Linked DNA regions of Homo sapiens: region 1 is linked to region 2. Evidence: fine-mapped expression QTL. A gene starts in region 2. The other region holds a variant in brackets. All regions are shown on one strand. Distances are between the middles of the regions. Region 1 overlaps RNF20 (ring finger protein 20). Region 2 holds the start of RNF20 (ring finger protein 20).

Region 1 (12,002 bases), 32 kb after region 2:
AAGTGGTAGGTCTACTTTTAGTTCATTAAGGACTCTCCATACTGTTTTCCATAGTGATTGTACTAGTTTACATTCCCACCAACAGTGTAAAAGTGTTCCCTTTTCATCACATCCATGCCAACACCTATTATTTTTTGATTTTTTGATTATGGCCATTCCTGCAAAGTGAGGTGGTGTTGCATTGAGGTTTTGATTTACATTTCCCTGATAATTAATGATGTTGAACATTTTTCTTATGTTCGTTGGCCATTTGTATATATTCTTTTGAGAATTGTATATTCATGTCCTTAGCCCACTTTTTGGTGGGATTGTTTGTTTTGTTCTTGCTGATTTGTTTGAGTTCCTTGTAGATTCTGGATATTAGTCCTTTGTTGGATGTATAGATTTTTTTCTCCCACTCTATGGGTTGTCTGTTTACCCTGATGATTATTTCTTTTGCTGTGCAGAAGCTTTTTCGTTTAATTAAGTTTCATCTATTTATCATTTCTTTTGTTGCATTTGCTTTTGGGTTCTTGGTCATGAAGTCTTTGCCTAAGCCATTGTCTAGAAGGATTTTTCCAATATTGCTTTCTAGAATTTTTATGGTTTCAGGTCTTAGATTTAAGTCTTTGATCCATCTTGAGTTGATTTTTGTATAGGGTGAGAGATGAGGATCTAGTTCCATTCTTCTACATGTGGCTTGCCAATTATCCTACCACCATTTGTTGAATAGGGTGTCCCTTCCCACTTTATGTTTTTGTTTGGTTTGTCAAAGATCAGTTGACTACGTATTTGGCTTTATTTCTGGGTTCTCTATTCTGTTACATTGGTTTACATGCCTATTTTTATACCAGTACCATGCTGTTTTTGTGACTATGGCTTTATAGTATAGGTTGAAGTCAGGTAATGTGATGCCTCCAGATTTGTTCATTTTGCTTAGTCTTGCTTTGGCTATGTATGCTCTTTTTTGGTTCCATATGCGTTTTAGGATTGTTTGTTCTAGTTCCGTGAAGAATGATGTTGGTATTTTGATGGGAATTGCATTTCATTTGTAGATTGCTTTTGGCAGTATGGTCATTTTCACAATATTGATTCTACCCATCCACGAGCATGGGATGTGTTTCCATTTGTTTGTGTCATCTGTGATTTCTTTCAGCAGTGTTTTGTAATTTTTCTTGTCGAGGTCTTTCACGTTCTTGGTTAAGTATATTCCTAAGTATTTTATTTTATTTTTTTTGCAGCTGTTGTCAAAGGGTTTGAGTTCTTGATATGATTCTCAGTTTGGTTGCTGTTGGTGTATAGCAGAGCTCTGATTTGTGTACATTAATTTTGTATAGTGAAGCTTTGCTGAATTCATTTACCAGTTCTAGCACCTTTCTGGATGAGTCTTTAGGGTTTTCTAGGTATATGATAATGTAATCAGCAAACAGTGACAGTTTGACTTCCTCATTACCAATTTGGATGCCTTTTATTTCTTTCTCTTGTCTGATTGCTCTGGCTAGGACTTCCAGTGCCATGTTGAATGGAAGTGGTGAGAGTGGCATCTGTGTCTTGTTCCAGTTCTCAGGGGGAATGCTTTCAACTTTTCCTTGTTCAGTATAATGTTGGCTGTGGGATTGTCATAGATGGCTTTTATTACCTTAAGGTATGTCCCTTCTATGCTGATTTTGCTAGAGTTTTAATCATAAAAGGATGCTGGATTTTGTCAAATGCTTTTTCTGCATCTATTGAGATGATCATGTGATTTTTTAAAAATTCTGTTTATATGGTGTATCAGATTTATTGACTTGTGGATGTCAAACCATCCCTGTATCCCTGGTGTGAGACCCACTTGATCATGGTGGACTATCTTTTTGATATGCTTTTTGAAGGCAGTGTGAGAAACTGTTAGAATGGTTACCTCTACATATTGGGATGAGTTGTGGGTGAGGTTAGGAGGTGGGTGTTTGTGATTTTACTTTTTACACTTTAATATTGTTTGATTCTACTTTGTGCATTAATTTCAAAAAAGACTCTTTTAGAATGTCTAGCCATTCTGAAGGAAATACTCTTGGACTTTTGTTTGAGTTCTAATTTATATGTTATAGTATGAATTGCCAGGTTTTAAGCATTAGCATGCATTCTCTATTTTTGGCAATTTGGAAAAGAATCTTTTCAGTCATTTTTCAGACTCTTACTGAATCTTCCACAATATTTTATATTAAAAGTAAAGCTTTCAGTTATCATAGTCTTGATGTATTTTGAAGGGTTCATGGGCAAAATCAGTAATAGTTTGAGATTTCTAACATACTGTATTTTGTGGGCTTATAGATTAACAGAATAGTTTTTTTTCTTTTTTTAATCTTTTCATTTGTGTTAAAATCTGATTTTCTGTTCAAAGGTTGATGCCCAGCTACAGGTAGTAAGGAAACTGGAAGAGAAGGAGCATCTGTTACAGAGCAACATTGGCACAGGGGAGAAAGAGCTGGGTCTTAGGACCCAAGCCTTAGAGATGAATAAACGCAAGGTATGATTGATTAATCTAATGATGGTTAGTCTCAGTGGAACAAATAAGTATAACACTGTTGAGATTGTAAGTTCGCTTTATTCCTTCAACTTGGGCTAACATTTTGCCTCACTGGCAATAATAGGTGATACAATGGTGTCACTTATTTGTACATCCTACATAGGCAATGGAGGCAGCCCAGCTTGCAGATGACCTCAAAGCACAACTGGAGTTGGCTCAGAAGAAGCTACATGATTTTCAGGATGAGATCGTGGAGAACAGTGTTACCAAAGAAAAGGACATGTTCAATTTCAAACGAGCCCAGGTAAAAGCAGTTGTCTTTTCTTGTCACCTTTTAGGTGTTTTCTGAGGTCGGAAGTGACCCATATCATGAAAGAATCATTAGTCCAATGTATGTCATTTCCTACTAGACTTGAGGAAGTTTGTTGAGGGAAGAGAGTAAGTCTGTTTTCTTCACTGCCATATCCTCAGACTCTTTTATGGTGCCTTGCACCTAGTAGGCACAAAATAAATATTTGTTAAATTAATGAATTAGTAAATTGTTAAAGAAGTAACAGCATAGCAGCAGTAGAGGATTTTCAAGTTCTTGTATAATGTCTCTATTTTTGTCATGCTAGCTGTTTCTCATGATGTCTTTCTGTCTTTATCCGTAAGTCTCTGAATTATTTTAAACCGTTCTACCTTCAGCTTAAAACTAATTACTATAAAACAAAATAGACTGTCCTCTAAACTCTTAGATGTGTTTTCACAGGACTGAATTGGTAATAGATGCAATTCTAATTTGGGGATATAATTATGGTTGCCTCTTCTGAAACAAAAGAAAATATCCTGCCATTTGCAGTTCTCTACATTTCTACAAGATAATTGACCATAAAAGGATAGAAAGTCCCCTCTTTTCACAACAGAAAACTCAAGTCTATTATTTTTCTCAAAAATGATAGATTTGGGTAAGTGTGTCTAATGGGTATGCTATCCTGCCACAGGAGGACATCTCTAGACTTCGCAGGAAGCTGGAGACCACAAAGAAACCAGACAATGTACCCAAGTGTGATGAGATTCTGATGGAAGAGATTAAGGATTACAAGGTTAGAAAAAATGCCTTAGTGATTAGTTTTTTGTCAAAGCTTTAAGTGGCCTAATAGACTGGGAGAATAATTTGCATGATAGTAACCAGAGAATGGTTTATTTTGGAGGTTGGGGGGAAATGATGCTCTTTTTTTAGTGCCTTGTGGGTTTTCTTCTTGGTTGTGTAGTATATGAGAGCCATTTGGATCATAAACTTTCATGGTTGTTCAAACTCTGACATCTTTTCTTTTTAGGCACGCTTGACCTGTCCGTGCTGTAACATGCGTAAAAAGGATGCTGTTCTTACTAAGTGTTTTCATGTCTTCTGCTTTGAGTGTGTGAAGACACGCTATGACACCCGCCAGCGCAAATGTCCCAAGTGTAATGCTGCTTTTGGTGCCAATGATTTTCATCGCATCTACATTGGTTGATCTAAGTCAAGAGAAGAAGAGGAGCTGGCTAGTCAGGAACTTATTCATTAACCACCAAACCTCTACCTCTTCTCTCCTTGACTGTCACCTGTAGGACAGTTTATCAGTCAACTACCTTTCCTCCAGACTTTACTTCCAGGCTCTCCTCTTCAGTAGCTGGATGACTTTAGCAGAAAGGACTGGTAAATACAAGCCTTGGGTTTCAGAATGAATTAGAAACAAATAACTCTTACTGTCTTCCCTCCCAGCTTTGTTTATTTTGTGCTTTTAGACTTTTCAGTGTTTTCTTTTTCCAGCCCACTGTATAAACTTGGATTGTCCATTCCTCCTGAAGAAATCAAGTTGGTATTTTTGATGTGGAAAAGGGAACAAAAGTGGAAACATGGCTACTTTTGGGGAGTGATATTTTAAAAAATAAGTTGTCTATGGGCACAAAGTTTTCTTCATTTGTGTAGCAAACTTCTTGTGAATGTGGATTACAAAATGGTATAATTGTGCTACTCTCCCCTGGGTGGTTTGCAGCCCTAATGAAATTATGTCTAGGATGATTCAGTCTATTTCCCATTTACTAGCAGAGTAACTTGTTAAGATCAGCTGGCTTTCTTGTTAAAGTTATTTAAGTTTTGAATGCTCTACTACTTCAAGTCTTTAAATTTCTTGAGACTAGAATAATTTTAAATAATATGACCCTTTGTCTTCTAATGAAATAAAGATTGAAGAGGTTGAGTCAGGACTGAGCTGGTGAAGAAATCTTGTGGGTATTCTGGAAATTTGATACGGAGAGAACTTGGTGAGCTATGAATTACTCTCAGTCTCCTTTTTACAGGGTTGTTGTGATCCCTCTTTTCCAGAAAATTCTGTGGAATGTTTCTGTAGGACTTTGTTCTCCACAAGCTTGAATTAAAGCAGGATTCAGTTTGCATTTGTGTTTATGGTTTTTCTTTGAAACTTTTGTCTTTATTATTACAAGTTGATTTTATATCTGCTGTTATAGAATTAAATTTTCTTGCATGGAAATAATCAGCTTAGGTTAAGAGGTTGGCCTTGTTTAGAGTATTTAGATCTTTGCTTAATTGAAGCACTTTTCTCCCAATTCTTTTATTGAGTCTATTCTATGGAGAAATTATACCTAAAAGATTAATTTATTTGACTACTCAGTTATCTTTCATAGTTCATTAGGTGGGGTAAGAGACTATAATTTGTTTTTTGGGGGAGCATATTGCTGCCTCTAGCTTTAGGGTGAGAGTTCTTGCATTA[T/TGTG]GTGGTGGGTTTTTTTTTTTTTTTTTTGAGATGGAGTTTTGCTCTTGTCGCCCAGGCTGGAGTGCAGTGGCACAATCTTGGCTTACTGCCACCTCCGCCTCCTGGGTCCAAGCAATTCTCCTGCCTCAGCCTCCCGAATAGCTGGGATTACAGGTGCTCACCACCATGTCCAGCTAATTTTTGTATTTTTAGCAGAGATGGGGTTTTACCATGTTGGCCAGGCTGGTCTCAAACTCCTGACTTCAGGTGATCCACCTTCCTTGGCCTCCCAAAGTGTTTTGATTACAGGTGTGAGCCACCATGCCCAGCTGCATTATGTTTTATAATAACCAGCAAACCAGAGGTTTCATAAATCTCTGGCAAGGGGTTGTGTAAAATGGATCCTTCTTGATCACCACCTGTCCTAGAAGACAGGTAAGAGCAAATTCTGTGTCTTTCTGTGGTCACCAGCTATAATCAGCAGGATTTGCACTGAATTCCACAAAGTCATGTGGTATGAATTAAGCAATGAGTCTAATTGAAGAATCTTACTAGGTCATCAAGAGAGGTCATGGGTCCCTTGATCCCCCTGCTCAGCAAACACCCCCACCCCCACAGAACCATCATGACAGGATTAGCTCCTGCTTCTGGACACAGTGAGTTTTCATTTAGTAATAGGACACTTTCCCCTTGCTTCTTGCTCTTCTTATAGGGTAAGCTTGAGCATAACTTTGTTGGTTGGGTGCAGATATACTGCTTGGTCAACAGGTGGTTTGGGCTTGGCTGTTGGCTGTTTGTGACAATTGGCTGAGAAAGCCAGCTGCCCAGCACCAGGGGACCATAGGGCCTGTGGAATGTTGTGGAGGAAACCACTAGCCCCATGGGAAGTTGGATTTAGAGGAAGTTCCTCTAGTTGAGATGAGCAGGGAGCCCCTGATCCCAACTGGCTTGAGGTCCTGGCAACACAAGTTGAGCTCTCACAGTCATTTTCAGATAACAACCAAAAATGATGGTGATTTTTTGGCAGTTGGCTTCTCTCACTACAGAAGAGGTCAATGAATGCGCTTTAGGAATACTCCCAAACTGCATACCAAATTTTATTTGTATTGTATGTACATTATTCATAGCTTTTTTGGATCCTAGTTAGCAATCACAGCCCTTGATCCATATGAACTTTAAAGGGTAATTTCTTTAAGGTAATGCTTATAAATGCCAATTTCAAAGATTATTATAGAAGTCCTAGAGGCTTCTCATTTCTTAAAAACACTTCAGGCTGGGTGCAGTGGCTCACGCCTATAATCCCAGCAGTTTGGGAGGCTGAGACAGGAGGATTGCTTGAGCCCAGGAGTTTGAGACCAGCCCAGGCAACATAGGGAGACCCCGTCTCTACAAAAAATTTCGAAAATTAGCTGGCTGTGGTGGTGCACACCTGTAGTCCCAGCTACTTGGGAGACTGCAGCGGGAGGATAGCTTGAGCACCGGAGGTTAAGGCTGCTGTGAGCTGTGATTATGCCATGGACTCCAGCCTGGGTGACACAGTGAGACCCTGTCTCAAAAACAAACAACAACCATTTCAGATTTTGTAGGGATGGTCTCTCTCTCTCTTTTTTCTTTCTTTCATTGTTACCTTGGAAATTTCTTAGTGACTTTGACCAAAGTCAGGTGTGCTCTGAGGCATGCATAACTACATGGCTTGGATCTTACCTTCTTACTTACTATAGGGATCTTTTTCAAAGGTATTGAGCTGTTTCTGCAATTGTTTTCTTACATGAATTTCCATTGCAATTCCTTTTCCTTTTTCTCTGTCCAGATCCGTAGGCTTCCTTGTTCTTCAAGGGCCGGAATTTGATGCACATAGTTTAATGTACATGCCACTAGAGTGATGACTGTGATTTGATTTTGTGAAGATTCTAGACAATAAATAATCATCAGTCTTCTAAACCTACTAGGATGGTGATGCTTACACTTGCCGGAAGCATATGCTACTCTCATCTTTATTCCCATTGTCATTTGCTAGGATGTGGAATGCCGTTACATATTGTTCTTTGAAGATTTATCTGAGGACTGCCAGATAAACCCATGTCCCAGTGGATCTGCAGAAAAGTTTTGATTAGTCATTATTGCAGAAGTCTGCTTTTCTGATGTTAAGACAGATACACTGAGATTAGTAGAAAAATGGTGGATTATGTGTAGGTTGGATTGGGTTTGCACAATAGGAAACCCATGACATAGAAATACTTACAAATTTTCTAGATCTTAAAGTTTGGAAATACTTAAAAGTGGTCCTATCAGAAAGAATGAGCTTTACCTTCTGGGATTCCTGCCCATGTTTGGTCTGTTCCAAATGTTAGCTATTAAGGTCTTACTTATAGCCTACTTCACAATTACTAAAGGACATGAAAAGGACAATGTCTTAACAGTCTAATCCCTAATATCTAGCAGAGGCACATAGTAGTCAGTAAAGTTTTTCATGATTAAATTAATTCTGCTTCATGGTTCTGCTGCCAGATCTTCCGAAGTCTGCTTTACTGGGCCAATGTGTGATTCAAACCTTATTACTCTTTCTTTTTTTCACCCCCTAAGTAGAAACAATCTTTCCCCATATATCGAAGTAACCCTTCAAATTTGTATTATCCAAAAATATATGACTACAGTTTTAATTTATTTTGTGGCAATAAAAGGAATTATTATGAATTCTAAAACTAACACTTCTGTAGTGGCAGCTCATGAGACTGCTGAGTCTCATGTAGCTGAGACTTCACTTACTGCAAGGCACACATGATAACCACTACGCTACGGAAACCTGCATAAAAGCTTCATTTATTGTAAGTTAACCTTTTTTTTTTTTGAGGGAAGCTATGTTCACATTAATATAATAATAATATGCTCTGAGGATATTAGAGCTGAAAGGGAACTCAGACCATGTCCTTATTTTAGAAGTGAGGAAATAGGTTCCAGGGCCACTCAGGTTAGCCACAGGATTGAAATGCTACTATGAGAACTCCATTGTTCTTTTATCCCAATCGGAGACCTGTACTAATAGAGTACATGTCATCAGGTAGACAATAAGTGAAAATACTTTCTGAGTCATTTTGAAGTCTTCTAAAGACTTACATATACCTACTATACTTATCCTTGATCATTCTAATCTAACTAGACTCTTTGCCAGGCCCTGGATTAGAACTACATTTTGTTTCTGAATTCACTGAGTTCCTTTAGCACCTTGTTGTAGAGTAGAATTGAATCAAGGGATCTTAGATTTCTTCCTGCTCTCCCAATCATATGCATTTGCTGAGTGCTTATTGTGATTCCAGGCATTGTGTTAAATATATTTCTCATGAAGTCCGACTTGCCTGCGTATGGTGCTGCTACTTATTAGCAAGTTACTTCATGTCTCTATGCTTCAGTTTCTTCATCTATAAAATAATAACTACATCATAGGGTTATATGGAGGATGAAATGAATCATCATACAGGAGACATTCAGCACAGCGCCTGGCACCTAGTAAATGCTCAGCAAATGCTAACTTTTATAATTGTTGAGCAAATAAAGAAATTGATAGATCAACTTTCGTTTCCACCTACATTTTCTTATTTCTAGGGAAAAAAACAAAACAAAACAAAACACTGACATCCTCCCTGAAATCTAAGACACACGTTTATCCATGTCTGTCTGTCTCTAGTCTGCCTGTCCTGGTAAATGATGTCATGGCCAACTCATTCCAAAACTTCAAAAAGTTAACTTTATCTGCTCACTGTCCTACAACTAAAATGCATGTGAGTGACATCCAGCTCCACCTGGTGGTGAGGATCCTGTTCTTTTACTAGTTGTCTCTTCAGCTTAAAATCCTTTAGTGGTTCCTGTAGTCTTCAGGACACAAATCCAATTTAGCACAAGTGATCTTGCCTCTGCTTTTCTCTTTCCAGTTCATATAGTTTGTCATCCACCTTAAGCTGTGTGTTTCTATTATATTAAATGATTTGAAGGTCCCAGTTTCTTGATTGCCATGGTTTCCCTAATCTGGAATTTTGTACATGCTTTCTTTTAGTTTAGTTGCCTGTTACCCTCCACTGAGTCTCTTCACCTCACACACCTGCACCCACATGCACACATACACACAGTGTTTTCTTCACTCCAATAGTACCCGTTGTGCATTTCCTTATTAGAGTACACACCATAAAATGTCAGTTTGTGTCCTTTCATTACACTGAGCTCTATGGGATCAGAATCTGCTGTTTTTATCTGTCTATTTCCAGCAACTAGCCCCAATGCCTGGGTACAAATAGGCATCCAAAATATGAATGATTGAGTAATGCAAAAACACCCTTAGGTAAGTAGGTAGTTGAATTAAGTTATAGTGGATTTACATTTTCATGAGATTTGATTGTTTCTATTCGGAAAGAATGTGTGTGAAGAAGGCAACAGGCTAGCAGATTCATGAAGGCAAATTTGCCTGCAGCTAAAACTGCTTGGGTTATCAGAAACTGCCCATATGTCTGGGACTGCAGGGCTGCTGCTGATTTGTAACTGTGTTTGCATCAGTTCTTGGTTGGGCTAGAAAGCAGAAAGAAAAGATGCTGAAATGCTATTTTTATGAGACATAGGTATTACAGTGTTGAGTTAAATGGACCAATGAAGGTGCAGTTACAATATCCGCTTCTCTCTCTGTTCTGTGGAGCTAGGGGCCAGGCCGAGGCATGGGAAAGAAGCAGTAAGGCAGAAAGACTAAAAGGGGATTCAAGGAAGAATAGAAAATTGTGAGGCAGTGACCGGAATCCTGTATGGTTGTACAAATCTCTGTTACTATTACTAGTTCTGCAACCTTGGGCAAGTTACATAGTTTCTCTGACTCTTGTTTTTTTATCTGTAAACTGGAGGTCTCATTTACCTACTTAAGACTACATCTATAGTGCCTATCTTGTGGGGTTGTTAAGATTAAATGAGATCATGGTTTATAATAAGTACCCAATATATGTTAGTTGTTACAGTATTACCTGTTTATAGGTTGTAAAAAGGTCAGATTGAGGGTGGGCGTGGTGGCTCATGCCTGTAATCCCCACACTTTGGGAGGCCGAGGTGGGTGGATCACGAGGTAAGGAGATCGATACCATCCTGGCCAACATGTTGAAACTCCATCTCTACTAAAATACAAAAAATTAGCCAGACATGGTGGCAGGCGCCTGTAGTCCCAGTTACTCGGGCGGGAGGCTGAGGCAGGAGAATCACTTGAACCTGGGAGGCAGAGGTTGCAGTGAGCCGAGATCATGCCACTGCACTCCATCCTGGTGACAGAGCAAGACTCCGTCTCAAAAAAAAAAAAAAAAAAAGAAAAAAGGTCATAAGTTAGGGACCATACCTATCTTCTTCACTATTGTGTCTCCAGCACTTGGCACGTACATGGAAGCTGTTTAGCAAATGTTTGTCGAATTACTGATGAGGGTGATCAGTACAGGATTTTAGAGACCTCTGAACTTGTGCTTTTTCCTGGAATGTCTATCTCAGATGAAGCCATTTCAGTTCTACTTCATGATGCCTGAGCTCTGAGATTTCTCAGCATATCTTGTGTTTCTTCTTTGGACTATAGCAAGGAAATAAGCATAAATCATAGCATTAATGGGTCTCCTATTAAGAAGGAACTGGTATCATGTCAACATTTGAATCCCCAAAGACAAAGCCAGCAGTACATCCAAAAGTGAAGTTTCTATCTGAACATTTATTCCACAGTCATAGAAACTGAAGATGGAAAAGACCTGAGGACATCTAATCCATCCATGTGGTTGTACAAGAAAAGTGGCTGGAGCAAAACAGCCCGTTCACTTCATGCTCACAAGACAGCATTTCCGTTCTTCCTGGAGCGGAGCGATTGCAAACACATTAAAATGAAGACACAATGCAAATACTCTTCACAAACCTTAAGAAAATACTTATAAATACATTATTTTCATAAAATGATTAGTAACTAAAAAAAAAGAGTGAGGGAATCCTGGATTAGATGGATAGTTTAGGTGGGTAAAGAAAGGAATAACTAAACAGTATAGATAGTAAAGTAGTATTAATGCCTAGAAAGCAATTTCTGAAGAACTGGATGGGTTTTCTGTTTTTCCTATCAAAAATATGAGTTGGGAGAAAAAGAGGCTCTAAAGTAGTTTCTTTCCCCTTTATTCTTTACCCACACCAAGGAAGTGCTTAACTTGCTCTAAGGCTCTAACAGACACAGCACCAACACTGAGAAGTCTGTTACCCAGATGATAAGGTCTGTTCTGCTTGGCACTTGCTCCGCTTACCACTTTTCTGGCTGGAAGGGAAGCAGCAGCTCTTGATAGGGTTTGTGCAATAGCAAGATTCATGAATAGCAGAGAGTCATCTCCAGGCACATTAAAGACCTCGACTGCTTGGGTCCCTGTGGCTGCTTCACTTGGCTGTCCTGGTTATTCTTCCAATTTGTTTTTAAATTTTGGGAGATTCCCCTTTCTCCTCCACCTGGAAGCATACACACTCTGGGGCCTTGATTATTCTTATTTACACGAACCAGGTAGCTATATCTGTTCCAGCTCATCTGAGCATGCTTTATCATGTGCTTCCTGTGCCAGAAAAGCAAGGTAGCGTCCCTTATCTCTTTCTTCTTTACCAGAATACCACCCTCTATCTGAAGGCTTCTGATCTTTGTGTTTTTTTTGAGCCTCAAAGGAGTTGAAAGAACAGAGGCAGAGCTGAACGGAAAGGAGGTTTCCAAGGACCCACCATTTCATGACATCATTTTACAAAACACAATACACTGTTTCACA
Region 2 (12,002 bases):
TCAGGTGATCCACCCACCTTGACCTTCCCAACTCCTGGAATTACAGGCATGAGCCACTGCGCCTGGCCCCAGTTACTTTCAAAACCTTATTCAAGTACATGATGCAAATGAATCCAGCTTCTAGGGTGGTTCATAAATTGTAATTTCAAGGTTTAGTTCAATAAGTGAAGCATAATGACTTATTCCATTTTTCCAAAGTAAATGGTACCAACCAGAACTATGCTTGGGAGGAAGAACAGGGAAGGGATATCAGGAAATCCTGAACTTCCTTCCACCTCTTCCAAATTAACTCATGTGTCTCCTGTTTTATAAATGCCTTTGGGAGGAGATACTACCATCATCCTGCAATAAAGATGAAGCTTGAATTCACTATATATCAGCATGTGCATATTTAAGATCAGTGTTTCCTGAAGTTGTGACAGTGAGAAGAGAGAGTCGGCTGAGTGCTACAAGTATCACAGGGTTGACGAGGATGGCAGCCCCACCTGGAAGGGCTTTATAAGCGCTGAGATTCTGGAGGCAGTCTCTTGAGAATTCATAACTCTCTAGGTAACTGCATTAGTCATCAATGTAATCAGCCTTTTTCTTTCTTCTGAGTCAGGAAAGGGGTGCTGATGAGGCAAGATTCCGAACATTTGTGGATTCCTGGCCGTATACTACTGCTGTAAGACCTCCTTTTAACTGAATTTGGCCATATGCCTTTGGGCACCAGAAATTCATATCTTAATACATGTCGTTGTTGGAGTCAATACATGTTTAAACTGATATACTATATCAGTTATATTTATATCAATTCTCCCTTATTGATCCTAGAATAATTTAAAAGAAAATGAAAAGACTAGACATAATTATGGCCACACAAGACAGTAGCTACACAATTAAGTAATAAATGTTTTACAAACTTAAGTAATATATGGACCCCTCTTTCAAAGGAAAACAATTTTCTCATGGGCCACTTAATGTTTACTTAAAATATTTTAATTGTAATGTTAAAATGTATAAATATAAACTTGGTATGCATGCCTTATGCTTATACAGCTTACAAACAAAAATATACTTACAAATTAAATATAAACAAGGCTACAGAGCCAAATAAGCTTAAAGTTAACAACATTTATTTAATGTGAGACACTTGATGTTGTTTTGCTAATATTAAGGCCCTCCTTGCTGTGTGTATACAGCATGACATGGATTCTTTAGAATTTAGTGATCCATCTCATCATCTTGACTGCCCATTGGGAAAGACGCTCAATCTCTACCCATGTGGATTTTCTTGGAATTCCTGTAAGCTCCAAGGGTAAGTTAGGGTGTGCCTGGGTGTGCCTAATTAGGTACTGTTGCCCCAAAATCTGTACTCAGATTTGTACTAAATAAGCACAATTACCCAGGGTCAGGAAAAGATTTATTGCATTTTTTAAGTTTTAAAAGTAAAAATGAGATCATAGGCACTGCCCATGGCCTCTTTGTGCCCTTCTTTTATTTTTCCACATTTCTGGAAATTCTTTTTAAGTGCCTTCTAGAATTCTGTACCAGTCAGCAAAAATATTTATACCAAAGTTTGAGACAGGCAATTTTCTTTCAGTTGGAAGTAGTTGTTTCCACCTTGCTTGTATGGGGAGGGGTCTCTAATATGCACCCAATCATAATAGTCCCTGGGCTTTGTCTCCTGTTCTGCTTGCCTACCAAGGCCATGAAAACCTAAATTCTCCTTTACCTAGTTTGACAAATGCCCTCAGCTGAAATCCAGTTTTAGTCCTCAGCTTGCTTTCTGAATGATGGTCATGCCATGCTTCTGGAAATGGAAATTCCAAATCTTACCTTTGTAATTACATGCTGTACCCCCATCCCCAACGCCTGATGCAAGCATTTCAGTGATGCTGTTCTTTCTCCTCCAAGGCCAGGTGGGTTTCTAGTTGCACAGTAACAGTAATATGGAAGAGTAGACCTACCCAGTGAAAATTCACAAAGACAACCTGGCTTCTGCTTTCCAAACACAAAAGCATCATAGAAATACAAATGATAAAAATGTTAGAAACCCAAACATAGACTGTCACATGGCTGGGCATAGGGACATAAAAGACCAATTGTATGATTGTAACATAGACACTTCTTAGTTTTTTTTTTTTTTTTTAAGTTCAGAGGCACATGTGCAGTTTGTTACATAGGTAATTTTGTCATGGGGGTTTGTTGTACAGATTATTTGATCATCCAGATATTAAGCCTAGTTCTCGTTAGTTGTTTTTCCTGATCCTCTCCCTCCTCCCACCCTTCACTAGGCCCTGGTTTGTGTTGCTCCTCTCTCTCTCTCTCTGTGTCCATGTGTTCTCATCACTTAGCTCCTACTTATAAGTGAGTACGTGCGGTTGTCTGTTCCTGTGTTAGTTTGCTAAGGATAATGGCCTTCAGCTGCATCCATGTCCCTGCAAATGACATGATGTCATTCTTTTTTTATAGCTGCATGGTGTCTCTCGGCTTTTTTTTTTTTTTTTCTTGAAATGGAGTTTCACTCTTTTTGCCCAGGCTGGAGTGCAATGGTGTGATCTCGGCTCACTGCAACCTTTGCCTCCTGGGTTCAAGTGATTCTCCTGCCTCAGCCTCCCGAGTAGCTGGAATTACAGGCGACCACCACCATGCCCAGCTAATTTTGTATTTTTAGTAGGGACAGGGTTTCACCATGTTGGCCAGGCTGGTCTTGAACTCCTGACATCAGGTGATCCGCCCGCCTTGGCCTCCCAAAGTGCTGGGATTACAGGCATAAGCCACCGCGCCCGGCCTTCTCTCAGCTTTTTAAGAGAGCATTAAACTAAATGGGGCTCCTCTGACAATTTGTGACTACCAATTAGCTCTCACGTTTCCATAGACTGTTAGGACACCTTGTCCTCACTCTTTAAAAAAGGCAGACCTGGCTCTAGCTCCCCTGAGTAAGCCACCTCCCTGGTCCCCAGAAATTACAAAGTAAGAGGGCTGAGTATGATGTAGTATAGTGGGCCAGGTGATCTGGGGAGAAGGAGGCAGGGGTATGGAAATGAAGGAGAAAGGTGTGGCGAGGGTGAATGGTAGGAGAAGGGAAAGGTGAGGACAAGAGGAGGGGGCTCGTTTTTGTAGGACACTCCCAGGTGGACCTGGACATCATTACCTAGAGCAGTGTTCCTTAAATGTGCCCAGATAGGAAGCATAATTACAAAAGTAAGAACTTGCATTTTCAGAGAGCTTTCCCCCGGAAATTCTGATTCAGCAAGTCTAGAGCAAGGGCTATGGTATCTAAATGTTTCTGTTTAACGAGTGATACCATGCTAAGTAAAATACAACTTGTTTAAAATAAGGGAGTTCCTGAATTATGTCTGGCATACAATCCAATCCAGATTTCATGGAATATTGGAATGCCTGGAGATATAACAATCTTAGAACAAAACATTTGTAAAGCAGTGTAGAAAAAAACAATAAACAAAAATCCAAAATATCTTAATTTTGTCCATTTTGAGAGCATTAAGCCTACCCTCAGTAGTTGTCCAAGTTTCTAAGAGTTAGGGTGAAGACAGGACATGACTGATGCGCAGTACTGTGCAACCAAAGCTTTAGAAAGGGAACTGGGTAAAGAGGCGTGTCGCCTTATGCCACCTTGTGGCAGAATTGGGTAGTTAATGAAGACCGGCTGGAGGTCGAATGACTTGGGTCCTTCAACAAATACTCATTAAGTCATCATTTGAAAAAAAAAATCACTTAAAATCTGAGTCTGTTTTCTCCTTTTAAAAAAGATTACTATTTGCTTAAATTATGTTTTTGATACAAGCAATGAGACTTTAAAAGTGAAATAAAATATTAAGTATTCTTTTTATCATTGCTAATGCTGTTTTCCCATTTATAAGTGAGGGAAAAACTTATTTTTCCAGGGATATTCCTTTTTCTCTTGATTAAGATGGTGAACAGAAGGTGGCTGGTCAGAAATGAATGGGGAATGCATTCAATGAGAGAGATCTCTGCCATCCTCCTCTTCATCTATTCTATTTTCCCAATTCGCTAGAGTGAGACAGGCTACTTTGAAGATGTCAGATGGCTGACTGAGGTGCTCAGAAAAGACAGATCTCACCAGTAGCTGCAGAATATGGTTACCTACTATGATGGTTAATTTTATGTGTCAATTTCGCTGGGCCACTGTGCCCAAATAGTTGGTGAAACATTATTCTGGATGATTCTGTGAAGGTGTTTTTGTTTGTTTGTTTGTTTGTTTGTTTTTTTGGATGAGATTAATATTTAAATTGGTAGACTAAAGCAGATTACCCTCCAAAATGTAGGTAGGCCTCATCCAATCAGTTGAGAGCCTTAATAGAACAAAGACTAACCTCCCCTGAGCAAGAATGAATTCTGCCAGCAGACTGCCTTTAGACTTAAACTGCAAATCTTTCCTGGGGCTCCAGGTTGCAAACCTGCCTTGTAGATTTTGGTTTATCCAGCCACCACAATCCTGTGAACCAATTCCTTATAATGTCCCTCTCTCTCTTTCTCAAATCTCTTTCTACACACACACACACACACACACACACACACACACACACACACACAGAGTTGATTTTATTTTCTGGAGAGCTGTGACACCTGTGAAGGTGTTAGATAACTGGAACTTTTGAGAAAGACATATATCCCAGTTGCTAGAGAATATGGTTACCTACATGGTGAGAATTGAAAGGTACTAGAAAAGTCTGCTCTCTTTGTAGAATCTTCTCTAACACTCAAGTGTGGGTTGAAGTTAGGGGTGACCTAACTCAGTTGATTGGCTCCATTTCCCTGAGATTCTCTTGGTTCTGCTCACCCCTATGTGGTCGCTCCATTCTCAAGAATGATCTCAGGAAGCCTCCAACAGTTTCAGCCTCACACAGAAAATCTGGAAGATAAAAATCTGCTTCAATTCTAGTATTCAAAGAAATTCACCCTGATTAAAGTGTCAATTGCTGACTAGGACTTTGGCTTGGGAAATGGAACTTAGTATTTAAGACAATCCTTGGAGATTGGGGTGAAATCAGTTTTCCCTAAGACTTAATGGAATCAAAGTGCTATATGGATACATGAAAAAAATCCTGGTTCTGCTAAGGTGAGGGAAGGGGAATAGCTGTTGGGTAGATCACCAATAATGTCCACCAGACACTTACGTAGTACCAGCAATTGATTTATCACAATGTAACACACAAGTGATGATACTCAAATTAAACTATACTAGTGCTAAGGAACCAGTAAAGATTAGTGGGGATTATGGTAAACAAGAATAACATGATCTATTAATAAAAGAGAGCCACGCCAAGCGTGGTGGCTCATTGCCAGTAGCTGTGGCTCAGGCCTGTAATCTCAGCACTTTGGGAGGCTGAGGTGGATGGATCGTCCGAGGTCAGGAGTTTGAGACCGGCCTAGCCAACATGGCGAAACCCCATCTCTACTAAAAATACAAAAATTAGCCAGGTGTGGTGGCGTGTGCCTGTGATCCCACCCACTTGGGAGGCTGAGGCATGGGAATTGCTTGAACCTGTGAGGTGGAGTTTGCAGTGAGCCGAGATTGTGCCACTGCACTCCAGCCTGGGTGACAGAGTAAGACTCTGTCTCGAAAAAAAGAAAAAAAAAAAAAAAGAAGAAGCCACTACTTTGCTCTAAGCAATGTGACCATGCAAAAATATAACCCTTCTGTTGCAAGATCATCAACATTTTTTAGAGAAACTGATAATTTGGATTTTTATGTAAAATAGCCATATTTTAAATGTTGGCAACTAAGTTCATTTTTGTTCTTGTTTTTAACCACGCAGGACAGCCAATACTGTCTAAAATAAACAAAGCATAACTGTTGGCTAAATGCAGTCTGTGAACCTCTAGTTTTCTGGGCTAGAAAAACCATTACTTGCCATTCAGTAGTTCTATGAATGAAAGGCTTGCTAAGAGTAGAGGAACCAAAGAAGATGAGAGAATGAGTGTCATTGTCTCATACAATGCTTTTCGGCAGGTGTGTCCCCACTCACATGTTCTCAGGCTCCCACTTCACGGAATGAAATGTGAAGTCCACTTGGGGCCAGTTAATTCTTTCCAAGATAGTCAAGGTGTTCCACTGCCAGGCACCAGGAACACTTGTTTCCCTGGTGTTGACCATCTTACTTCATTTACAGGTAAGCCCTAGCAGGTACAGGGACAAAAGTCTTCACACTAACAGAAATCCAGTGTAGATTAGCTTCTTTTTTTCCCAAGATGCCTAAATTCTATTTTTTAAAAAAGATATAGCGATCATTCTTCCATTTCTAGACCCTTAGCTGACGTCATTAGGTAGTTTATCATAGTTCTGCGAGACATACAGCTTTTCATTAATAGGTTAGATTAATTACCGTCCTATCATTAAAACGCATTTAGTTTAACTGAATGGAAAATAGCAGTTTGTCATAAACTTAAAAAAAAAAATCAATGCTTAATTAGCTTAAAATAGACTAGTACTGAGATCAGAGACTGATTGGCGTTTATCTTTTCCCTGGACAATTTCTTGTTCCCAAAAAAGCACAAGGGCAGTAGTTGTCACTCCTGCTTACGCATTAGAATCTAGTGGATGGAAATGCGGGGTTTGGGGGGAGGAGATGAGGGGAACGCTTTTTTAAAAAAGCTTTTGTCCAGGCCAAGTGATTCTAATGTGTAGACAGGGCAGAATACCGCTCCCTGTGCGGGGGAAAAAATCCCCAACATCTGAAATTCCTCAAATCCCTCAGATTCTCTCCAGAACTCTTCATTTCAGCACGTAGGGGTACCAACGAACAATTTTCTGAGGTGTCTGAGGCTAGTCATGTCCCCGGAGATTGACGGGACCGTCAGCCAATCGGCCGTCTGAACGAGTGATGGCAACCCCAATGACAAGCAACAGAATGAGGAACTTTATCCCCGCAGAAAGACCAGATCGCAGTAGCAAAGGTCAACAAGTCAACAAAAGCCAAGGGCTCTCCGTCAGGCATCAGCGAGGCCCGAGTACTCTTAGAGGTCGTAGCCAGGAGAGGGTCCCGCGCTTGCCCAGCGTTGCTAGGGAGGCGGCGCTTGCTCAAGCTTCTCGTGCCCTCTCCGTACGTCACTTCCGCCCGGCGGGGTCTCATAGTCCTATGGGCTGGGTTGAAGCCACTTCCTTTTTTCTTTCCCTTTTTCCTCTCCGTGGCCCCGCCTCCCGGAAGTTCTGCCTTGTCTCCGCCGCGGGTCAGGGGTGAGAGCTGGAATCTCTGCACGGGCCTTGGTGAGTAACTGCTGCGAGTTCTGTTCCCGCGCGGCGCCAGTTCAAAGAACTTAGGTTAGATCACGCTTAGGGCCCAACAGGACTGTGCCAGGCCTCAGGAGTCTCCACCCTCTCCAGTTTTGGGGCCGTCAGTCTCCTGGGCCTGCAATTATCCACGCTGAGGCTGAGGTCTTTGGCTTTTAGCGAGTTGGATTGCAGCCTTGTTCTGCTTCTGTGTCTTCTCTCTCCAGGCGAGGTCCTACTGAGGTTGTTGCCAGCGATAGTCCTCTCCTGGAGCTTGAATTGGAAGCAGAGTAGTCTTGTTAGTCTCGGTGATGGCTGCGTTGTTTCCTGAAGTAGCCAAAGTGCTTTAGCATCCATTCCGCCTCCTTTGAGCACCCTGGGAGGTAGGCAGGGCAGACGAAAAATATATTCGTTAATATTGTGCAGTTGAGGAAACTGAAGCTCTTGGCGAATTCACTGTTTCAAAGCAACACGGCCTCTAACAGGCAGAACTGAAATTCGCACCCAGGTCTAACTAACGTAGGGTTGCATAAAACAGTGGAGAGAGCGTTTGGAAATAGGGAAAACACTGCAAACGTTAAAGAAGAGCTGGGGTTTCTGAGTGCTTACTTTGTGTTCGGCTTTGTGCCAAATTCTTTCTATAATTATATCATCCATTTTATTTTATAATAAGCATAGGAAGTATATACTGTGGTTATTTATTCCTGGGTTAGGAAACTGAGGCTTAGAGATGATAACTGACTTGTCTAGTACTAATGACTTTAGTAGGCATTTCACAGATCTCTTTCAGCTCTGTGATTCTTTCAACACTGTAGTATTAACTTCTGGCATAATCAAACTGCCCTTTTCTGATTTTGGCATTACAGGAAGAGAGATTCCAGAACTTTATTTTTGGTCTCTTCACCCTTTGCCCATTGTCTCATTTCTTATCACCATTCTTATCACCATCCTATTTAGAAATTTATAGTCATGTAAATTTAGCCTTGACTTTCTTTTTTTTTTTTTTTTGAGACGGAGTCCCGCTCTGTTGCCCAGGCTGGAGTGCTGTGGTGCGATCTCGGCTCACTGCAAGCTCCGCCTCCCGGGTTCAAGTGATTCTCCTGCCTTAGCCTCCCGAGTAGCTGGGACTACCGGCGCCCGCCACCACGCCTGGCTAATTTTTTGTATTTTTAGTAGAGACGGGGTTTCACCGTGTTAGGCAGGATGGTCTCGATCTTCTGACCTCTTGATCCGCCCGCCTCGGCCTCCCAAAGTGCTGGGATTACAGACATGAGCCACCGCGCCCGGCCCGCCTTGACTTTTACTCTACAATTTAATTTTTTTTTTTTTTCCTCAAAGAGAAATATGGAGATGGTTGTGGAATTAATGGATCCAGGTTAAAGGGTTGGCCAGAAAAGTTGCTAGTTTTTACTCTATTGTTTTACTCTATTGTTGCTTTGCTTACATATATTATGTCAGTTTCTGCCTTTTTTTCTATCAGGAAAACGACTGTCTTCTTCTGCCAAAATGTCAGGAATTGGAAATAAAAGAGCAGCTGGAGAACCTGGCACCTCCATGCCTCCTGAGAAGAAGGCAGCTGTTGAAGATTCAGGGACCACAGTGGAAACAATTAAGCTAGGAGGTGTCTCTTCAACGGTATGAGGAAACAGTGCCATGAAAGTGTGCTTGTCTTCTGTCAGTTGCAACTTGAAACTAAAAATTCATGGAAGCTTTCTGGAGTATGGGGAAGCTATTTGAAAAGAAGAGGGAAATAAAACAGGCTGAAAGTAGGTAAAATGATGTGGTAGTCAGTTCTAGAGGAGAGGTAGATTGATAGTTGTTCTTTGTTTTCAAGGTGTACTTATATTCTTTCGAGAATCTGGGAAGGTGGTGCCTGATACAACATTAACTATAGGTATTTAGCAGTGGGAAGATACACATTTATTTTTCATTCACTGAAAAAGTCAGTACCAGATTCTAAGAGACAGTTTAGCAATCATTGAGAGTATGGTGAAGAGTGAGAGTCTGAGACCAGATTGCCTGGAGTTGACTCTGAGCTGTACCACTTCCTAGCTGGCTGACCTTGTGTTATCCTTCCTTTGCCTGTTTTCTTGTCTGTAAAATGTAATTAGAGTACCTGCTACATTAGATTTTTATGCATATAAAATAAGAGTCCCTGTTAAGGGCTAACACTTTGCATTTAATATAGTAAATAGTCAATAAATGGGAGGCATTCATAGCTAATATTGGGCTAGATAATATAATGGTGCATAACATAGATATTATCCTTGCTCTTATGGAGCTGACAAAATGAGTATTATATACCAAAATCTCATAGTAATGTTATATATCTGTTAGACATCAGAAGTTTACAGGTTTTGATCTACGTCAAGATTTTGCTTTTTTGAAAATCAGACATGGGGATGTGATATTAAAATGTTTTACATTTTGTAAAATGCTTTACATTTGTATGGCTTGCAAAACCACATCTATTGCTTATTTGATTTTGAGGCTGAGGTTTATTTTAGAGAGGCTGATTTTTTTTTTTGAGTCAGAATAATAGGAACATTCATAGTGAGTTGTTGATGAAGTGTCATTTCTGAGGCTGCCTGAGGTTCTGGTACTTAATATTGCTGGCAGGAAGTGATTTTTGTTTTAGCACTGCCTTGCATCATGCATTCCAAAGGCATTTATTCACTCAATATATAAATATTTGTTGAGTATTTGTTATTTGCCAGACACTATCCTTTACACTGAAGACAGCCCCTAGACTTTAGTTTGTAGGGTAGCACTGACAAGGGAATAGACTGTTTAGAGTGGGGTATGTGCTGTTGACAGGGATAAGCACATACTTATGGGAAGCACATAGCACACACCCCAGTGTGGACTTTATCCAGAGGCAATGAGGAGTTAGTGGATAGTCTTAAGTAGGAGACTAACATGCTCTGACTTGTGTTTGGAGACTATAGAAAAGCAAGGATTATAAACAAGAGTCCAGCTAGCAGACTTTTTTCTTTTCTTCTTCTTACTCTCTTTCGCTATAACTGCATCTCTCCAAAGGTGGGGATCTGAGGCATGTATCCACTGATCCCCGCTCCAATTGGTTGAAGGTTGCCATTGAAAGCAGTCCCTCCTGTGCATTTTGAGATTGCTGTTAGGAGCCAGCTGTGATTGCGGGACAGAAAAACTGAGTCTCCAAAGTGTGCTTGAAGTGGGAACAATGGCAGTGTAAATGGAGCTGTCCACCACAGCTGTGCTGAAATCTGGCAGGCTGACAGGACTTAGCACAGAGTTTTTGCTATAGGAGGCCTTTGCAGTAATCTTAATGAGAAATCATGGTGGCTTGGACCACTGTGGAGGTAGCATTGATAAGATCTGCTGATGGATTGGATAACTCACATGAAAGATAGGAGGGAGGATCATCCCAGGATTTTGAAAGTAATGGAATTTTTACTTACTGAGCTAGAGAAGTGTATGAGAGGAGCAGATTTTTGGGAGTCATGGAGGATGAATTGAGTTTGGTTTGGTTTGGGACATATAAGTTTGAGATACTTATTTGACCTCTGAATGGATAGGTAGTTAATAAGCTGGATACTAGAGAGAGGTCTGGGCTAAAGCTGTATATTTGGGAATCGTCATTTTGTAAGTTGTGTTTACATCTATGAGACTACAGACTCCTTTAATGAATAAGCATAAAGAGGTCTGCTGGGGCACTACAATATTTTCATGTCAAGGAATGAGAAAGGACTAATCAAAGATACAAACAAAGAGGGACCAATGAGGTAAGAGGATAGGAAGAGAGAATGGGTTCCCAGAAGCTCAATGAAGAAAGTATTTCAAGAAGGAGCTGATTAGGTGCTGCTGATGTGTTCTCATTCAGGTTTCAGTTGGAACAAGGGGAATAAAGGGAGGACTGAGGTGTTATATTTAATAATAGTTCACTGGAGATACCAAAACACCTTTGTTGGTGAAATAGTGGGGATGGCACCCTGTTTTCAGTGAGCTTAAGAGAATATGAGGGGAGAGGAATTAGGAAAAAGAGAGTAGAGACAATGCTTTATAAAGGAGTATCGCTGTAAAGTAGATGACTATATAATGACTGATCATGGAATTTAAGTTCAGTAAAGAAGGAGGTGAGAGAAGTGAAAGGTATAGGACCAATGGATTGTAGATCCTGGAGAGGTTAAAGAATTTTTGGAGTAAGGAAACTGGAGAGAGTGAGCTGGAAAAATAGTGGTAGTTGTGAAGAATGAGGTGTTTGAAATTGAGCTTATAGAGGACATGTAGGTACAAGTAAGACTAAATGTGGGAGTTGGTGGCTGAAGGAGGTAGAAGACAAGATCATTGGTGAAGAGGAGGTCAGTGACTTGATGATTCAAGTATAGGAAAGGTTATCTGTATGGGTATTGAAATCATTAAGAATGATGACAGGAAAAGTATTGGAGAGTGATAATAAGGTAGGTGCTAAGTCTTTGTGAAATGTGAGGAAACGACGTGGGCATTTACAGATGAATTCAACAGAGCATGGCGGCAGGTGGTATAGGCTAATGGCATGAGCTGCAGAGGTAGGAGGTTTTAGGGAGGAAGGTGGGGTAATGGCCTGGAAGTGGCAATGGAAAATAAGGAGGATATTCATCCCTCTCTGGCTTCAAGGGGTGTGGAAGAGAAACAGCCACCACTAGAGAAGCCTGCAGGGAAACAGTTTCTCATCCAAGTTTCAGTTAGAGCAAGAAGGGAAAGGCAATGTTCAGAGAAGAGTTTGAGGATATAGTTTATTAATAGTGTT

Evidence for each region. PIP is the estimated chance that this variant, and not a neighbour inherited with it, causes the effect.
Region 1: its variant is fine-mapped to the expression of RNF20 in tibial nerve (GTEx, PIP 0.91).

Annotation. Positions count from the first base shown.
Region 1 is chr9:101,558,442-101,570,443 of GRCh38, forward strand. It overlaps RNF20 (ring finger protein 20), which reads left to right. Exons shown (of 20, transcript NM_019592.7): 17 at 2,360-2,485; 18 at 2,649-2,789; 19 at 3,469-3,570; 20 at 3,805-4,903. The coding sequence ends at 3,981. GRIN3A (glutamate ionotropic receptor NMDA type subunit 3A) reads right to left here. Exons shown (of 9, transcript NM_133445.3): 9 at 10,911-12,002. Among named protein-coding and RNA genes, the nearest start is that of PPP3R2, 31 kb to the right of the region's middle. The variant T/TGTG (reference allele first, on the strand shown) is at 5,239.
Region 2 is chr9:101,526,681-101,538,682 of GRCh38, forward strand. RNF20 (ring finger protein 20) reads left to right here and starts at 7,173. Exons shown (of 20, transcript NM_019592.7): 1 at 7,173-7,234; 2 at 8,718-8,872. The coding sequence starts at 8,744. It also overlaps a transcript of PGAP4 not described here. RefSeq lists an enhancer at 6,915-7,044.